Linked DNA regions of Homo sapiens: region 2 is reported to be linked to region 1. Evidence: microRNA targets listed by miRTarBase, many of them from high-throughput screens and not tested one by one. Region 1 holds a microRNA gene; the other region holds the end of a gene's coding sequence.

Region 1 (3,292 bases):
CATTTCCCCCCTTGGATATTAAGAACATTATCACAGAGGGTGTACACCCCCTGTAACATTGGAAGTAGTATCATCTCCCCCCCTTGGATATTACAAACAATATTACAGAGAGTGTATACACACGGTGTTATGATATGGGGAGTAGTATCATATCCTTCCTTCAATATTATGAACAATATCACAAGGGGGTACACCTGCTGCGATACTGGGAGTAATGTCATCTCCTCCATTGCATATTGCAAATGATATAGAGGGGTACATCCCCTGCGATAATGGGTGTTATGACATCTCCCTCCTTGGATATTATGAAGAATATCACAGAGGGGGTACACCTCCTGCAATACTGGGAGTAACATCATCATCCCCCTTGGATATTACCAAAAATATCGCAAAGGGTGTACACCCCAGGCAACATTGACAGTTATATCATCTCCCAACTTGGATATTACAAACAATATCACAGAGGGTGTACACCCCATGCGACATTGGGAGTTATATCATCTCCCACCTTGGATATTAAGACCAATATCACAGAGGGTGTACACCCCCTGCGACATTGTAACATCATTCCCCCCTTGGATATTAAGAACAATAACAGAAAGGGTGTACATCCTCTGTGATTTTGTACAAACAATATCACAGAGGATGTACATCCCCTGAGACATTGGAAGTAGTATCATCTCCCCCCTTGGATAATACAAACAATAACAGAGAGGGTGTACACCCCCTGCAGCATTGGGAGTAATATTATATCCACCCTTGGAATGTACACCCATGGGACATTGGGAGTAATATCATTCCCCCCTCTTAAATATTATGAACAATAACACAGAAGGTATACACCCCTTGCGACATTGGGAGTAATATTATCTCCCCCCATGGATATTACAAACAATATCACAGAGGGTGTACACCCAATGCGACATTGGGAGTAATATTATCTTTTCCCTTGGATATCACAAATCAATATCACAGAGGAAGTACATCCCCTATGACTTTGGAAGTAGTACCATCTCACCCCTTGGATATTATGAACAATAACACAGAGGGTGTACACCCCCTGCGACATTGGAAGTAGTATCATCTCTCCCTTGGATGCTACGAACAATATCACAGAAGGTGTACACCCCCTGCGACACTGGGAGTAGTATTATCTCCCATCTTGGGTATCACACACAATATCGCAGAGGTTGTACACCTCCTGCAACATCGGGGGTAGTATCATCGTCCCCCTTGATTATTACGAACAGCATCACAGAGGGTGTCCAACAACTGTGACATTGGGATTTGTGTCATCTCCCCGTTTAGATAATACGTACAATATCACAGAGGGTGTGCACCTCCGGCAACATTGTGAGTAGTATCATTTTCCCCTTGTATAGTACAAACAATAGCACAGAGAGTGTACACCCCCTGCGACATTGGGTGTAGTATCATCTCCCCCCTTGAGTATTATGAACAATATCACAGAGGGTGTACACCACCTGCGACACTGAGAGTAGTATCATCGTCCACCTTTGATATTACAAACAATATCGCAGAGGGGGTACACCCCCTGCAATCCTGGGAGTAACGTCATCTCACCCCGTGGATATTATGAACAATATCAGAGAGAGGGTACACTCTCTGAGATACTGGGAGTAACGTCATCTTTCCCCTTAGATATTACAAATAATATCACAGGGTACTCCTGCTGCAATACTCGAAGTAACGTCATCTACCACATGGGATATTATGAACAATATTACAGAGGGGGCACACTTTCTGCGATACTGGGGGTAACGTCATCTCCCTCCTTGGATATTACGAACAACATCTAAAAGGTGGTACACCCCCTGAAATGCTGGGAGTAAAGTCATCTCCCCCCTTGAATATCATGAACAACAATACAGAGAGAGGGGGTACACGCCCTTCGATACTGGGAGCAACGTCATCTCCCGCATTGGATATTACGAACAATATCACAGAGGATGTATACCTTCTGTGATACTGGGAGAAGCGTCATCTACCCTTGGGATATTAGAAACAATTTCACACAGGGTGTACACCCCCTGCGATACTGGGAGTAAAATCATCTCCCTCCTTGGATATTATGAACAATATCACAGAGAGTGCATACACAGGGTGTTTACGATCTTGGGAGTAATATCATCTTCCCCCTTGGATATGAAAAACAGTATCACAGAGGTTGTACATCCCCTGCGACTCTGGGAGTAATATGATCTCCGCCCTTAGATATTACGAACATTATGAGTTAGGGTGTACACCTCCTGCGACATTGAAAGTAACATCATCTGCCACCTTGGATATCATGAACAATATCACATAGAAGGTAAATTCCATGTGACATTGGGAGTTATGTCATCTCTACTCTTGGATATTATGAACAATATAACAGGGCGGTGAACAAAACCTGTGATATTGAGGGTAATATCATCCTCTCCCCCTCTGAATATTACTAACAATATCACAAGGGGGTGTACACCCCCTACGAAATTGGGAGTAATACCATCCTCTTCCACTATGGATATCACAAACAATATCAGAAGAAGGTGTACACTCCCTGCGATATTGGCAGTAATATCATTCTCTCCCCCTCTGGATATTATGAACCATATGGCAGGGGGGTGTCTCAGGGGGCGTACCTCCTCTGTGATATGGTCCTCTGTGATATGTGTATATTCCTCTGCGATATTGAGAGTAATATCATCCTTCCCCCCCCCCCCGTATATTACGAACAATATCACAGAGGGTGTATGACCTTTGCGATATTGGGATTAATATCAACCTCTTCTTCCCTTGATATTACGAAAAATATCACAGGGAAATGTATACCACCTGCGATGCTGACAGTAATATCAACCTCTGCTCCCCTGGATATTACTAACAATATCACAGGAGAATGTATACCCCATGCAATATTGGGAGTAATATCATTTTATCCTCACCTGGATATTACGAACAATATCACAGGGGGGTGTACACTGCCTGCGATATTAAAAGTAATATCATCCTCTCCCCTTCTGGATATTAGGAACAATATCACAAAAGGAGTGTACATTCTTTGCGATATTCAGAGTAGTATCATCCTGTTTTTCCCTGAATATTCGGAGAAATATCACAGGTTGAGTGTACACCCACTGCTATACTGGGAGAAACATTATACTATACCAGCTGGAAATTAAGAGCAATATCACGGGGTTGGGGGTGTGGAGAAGAGCCACTGCAATGTTAGAAGTAATATCATTCTCTCCCCTACTAGTTTATTGGGAACAATATCACAGGGGGTTGT
Region 2 (3,292 bases), not on the chromosome of region 1:
CAGTGTCACTATTCTTGTTTCCTGGCACTGTTCACTTAACCTTAGAATCACAGAGCTCTGAGCACTTCAGAGATCTTTCTATAGTCCTACATTTGACACGTGGAAACAGAAGCCAAAGGAGGTCAAGGGACAGCAAGTTAGCAACAAGGGTGGGCTTGAAAACAGCCAGGCCTCTGACAGCTTGATCCCAAGTTCTTTCCCTTTTCAGTCCACCATAGCAGTTTTCTCCTAACACGAGGAAACAAATACCCGTGGTCTTTCCCTTTCTCCTTTTGGGCCTTTGCTCCCCATAGACTCCTACCCAAAAGGCTGCTGCCATTTGGGAATGAAGTGTTCCGAGTTTTCAGCACATTCTCCTTCTCTGCCAGATGAAAGCCAGTCTCTGAGTCTCTGTGGCATGGTTTGGGAACACAGGAAGGGTACCGATTACCACAAGCAACCATGGCAGGCCAAGATCTCAGTCATTGTAAGCACAGAATCCCAGTAGTGGGGACTTGGGGGAGGTGAGGTCAAGGTGAAATGGGAGTAGGGGAAGGAAAAAATGGCCATAAGAGATGGTGGTTTGTGAAAGTTGAGCTTTCCCTCTCTACTGTTGTGTCCCCAGCGCCCTTCAAAGGGACACGAGAGCTGTATGGGGGCTGTGGTGTCTGAGTACTTTGTGCTGACAGCAGCACATTGTTTCACTGTGGATGACAAGGAACACTCAATCAAGGTCAGCGTAGGTAAGGATGCAACTGAAGGTCCTGGGCTGCACCTATGCTCTCCAGGCAACACCTCCCACTTTCTACAGATCCTACACTCCACCCATCCTCAATGCAGCCCCATTCCTTGCACCCCAGACCAGTCAGGGATGGGGGAAGACGTGAAGTTAGGAATGACACGGGGCCAGAGGCAGGAAGCTGCCCACAAAGAGGTGGTACCTACTCTCCTACTTCAGGAGGGGAGAAGCGGGACCTGGAGATAGAAGTAGTCCTATTTCACCCCAACTACAACATTAATGGGAAAAAAGAAGCAGGAATTCCTGAATTTTATGACTATGACGTTGCCCTGATCAAGCTCAAGAATAAGCTGAAATATGGCCAGACTATCAGGTGAGAGCGTCCAGATCCCTGAGGAAAGGCTGGGAAAGGCTGGAGGACTGGGGTGAGGAGCAGGCCTGGTTTGCTGTTCTCCTTGTCCTTTATAGGCCCATTTGTCTCCCCTGCACCGAGGGAACAACTCGAGCTTTGAGGCTTCCTCCAACTACCACTTGCCAGCAACAAAGTAAGACATACTTGGCAAGAGGATAAGGATGAGATCCCAAGAGACAAGTGGGGCATGAGAGGGAGGTGCAATAGGAAGAGATGATGCCTGGCCCAGAACCTAGCTCTAGAAGGGCTTAGGGGACATCTACTGAGTGACAAAGGCAATGGGGAGATGACAGTGGTGGGAGCAGCTGAAGTGACGCAGTCTATTCGTCCAGAGGAAGAGCTGCTCCCTGCACAGGATATCAAAGCTCTGTTTGTGTCTGAGGAGGAGAAAAAGCTGACTCGGAAGGAGGTCTACATCAAGAATGGGGATAAGGTGAGAAACGGGCATCCTAAGGAGGCACTCTAGGCCCCAATCCTTCCTAAGCCACTTCTGTTCATTACTTCTCCATGCTTCCCACCTCCCCTACAGAAAGGCAGCTGTGAGAGAGATGCTCAATATGCCCCAGGCTATGACAAAGTCAAGGACATCTCAGAGGTGGTCACCCCTCGGTTCCTTTGTACTGGAGGAGTGAGTCCCTATGCTGACCCCAATACTTGCAGAGGTGAGAGAATGCTCTTTGGTTGTGCTACAAGTGCCCAAGGCCCAACAGTCCTTTTCTCTACAGCTTCTCCTCTCCTTGCAGGTGATTCTGGCGGCCCCTTGATAGTTCACAAGAGAAGTCGTTTCATTCAAGTGAGTCCTCCCTTTCCTATCTGGGGAGATGCCAAGTGGTCAGCATGGGCCCCAAAGCAGGAAAGCTCAATGCATGTGGCTAGTAATTCGAGGTAGGCAGAGCCTGCCTCACCTTAGGACCGCATGTCTTGCCTGCGTGTGTCAAGAACGAGGCTGAGCTGGGTCCCTAGTCTGATTCCTTTAGGTCAGCTAAGACACAAGCAGGAACAGCCATGCTTCCAGGATTAGGAATTCTACTGAATGATCCATGGCACCCCACTGCCTCTGCAGGTTGGTGTAATCAGCTGGGGAGTAGTGGATGTCTGCAAAAACCAGAAGCGGCAAAAGCAGGTACCTGCTCACGCCCGAGACTTTCACATCAACCTCTTTCAAGTGCTGCCCTGGCTGAAGGAGAAACTCCAAGATGAGGATTTGGGTTTTCTATAAGGGGTTTCCTGCTGGACAGGGGCGTGGGATTGAATTAAAACAGCTGCGACAACACCTGTGTTCCAGATCCTTTTGGGGCAAGGGAGTGGGGAACAGGCACTGGCCATGTTGTTACACTGAGATCAAACCTGACAGCCGTTTTTAAAGGTTTAACCCCAATCCCAAGTGCTGAAAAACCAGAGGCTGAGGGAGATGTGTAAGCTTCCACCTCAGTGTTTTACTGAGACCAGCATTGGGGCATATGAGGCACAAGGAATCCAGCTCTGTTCCCTAGAAGCCATCCACAAGGTTTTCCTTGTAGACGTCATCACTGTAGACAATCTGGGTCCTCTTGTCCCGGTGGCAACCCTTAGGGCTGTTCTGGACAGCTAGGGAGGGAGGAGAGGAACAGTTAAGGTCTAAAGGAGATCATAGAACAGACCCTGAGGCTGACTCCTGACCACCTCACTCCTGGCCACTGGCCCCTGGAAGCCCAGTTTCCACGCTGCCCTCTGGTGGCCAGGATGGCCTGTCTTCCTTAGCTCCTTTGTGCCAACCCATGGCCAAGAAAAGTATAAGTGGACATTTTGATGAATGTTTTGTTCTTAGAAAAATCCCAAATGTCATTGTTGAGACACGTGAATGATATTAACCCACTACTTACAGTCAGTATGTCAGAAGCTAAAAACTAGAAAACCTCTGTAGCCCTTTTTTGACATGCTGGTCAATTCTAGTTCCTTTCTTTTGCCTGAAGGGCCACTGTAGCTGAGCCCTTCTTTCTGCTCACTCCTTTCCCAGGAAAATCTACTTTCAGGGAAAATGGATTATTCACACTAAGAAATGCTACTAGCTCCACCAGAACTCATTCAGGGTGTAGCTTTGGCCCTCACCATTCTCTCTCAAGCCTCTAGCTGTTTCTTCCCCTTCCTCTTTCCTCCCTCCACCAGACATGTTACTCTCTTCA

The links. Region 1 holds the annotated microRNA hsa-miR-3683 (UGCGACAUUGGAAGUAGUAUCA, at 1,062-1,083, shown strand). A microRNA usually pairs through its seed, bases 2 to 8, with sites in the 3' UTR of a target mRNA and lowers its output. Matches are read on the target gene's strand: a 7mer-m8 pairs with bases 2 to 8, a 7mer-A1 pairs with bases 2 to 7 and ends in A, and an 8mer does both.
Region 2: the mRNA of NELFE is a reported target of hsa-miR-3683. The part of its 3' UTR that is shown has no 7-base or 8-base seed match.

What each region holds. Positions count from the first base shown.
Region 1 is chr7:7,064,801-7,068,092 of GRCh38, reverse strand. It overlaps MIR3683 (microRNA 3683), which reads left to right and starts at 1,048; the gene lies at 1,048-1,129. The region is part of intron 1 of LOC105375138 (a long non-coding RNA gene); the gene reads right to left.
Region 2 is chr6:31,949,682-31,952,973 of GRCh38, forward strand. It overlaps NELFE (negative elongation factor complex member E), which reads right to left. Exons shown (of 11, transcript NM_002904.6): 11 at 2,406-2,717. The coding sequence ends at 2,620. CFB (complement factor B) reads left to right here. Exons shown (of 18, transcript NM_001710.6): 11 at 369-466; 12 at 605-722; 13 at 938-1,091; 14 at 1,187-1,263; 15 at 1,463-1,563; 16 at 1,660-1,792; 17 at 1,874-1,923; 18 at 2,194-2,403. The coding sequence ends at 2,349. Among named protein-coding and RNA genes, the nearest start is that of CFB, 5.2 kb to the left of the region's middle.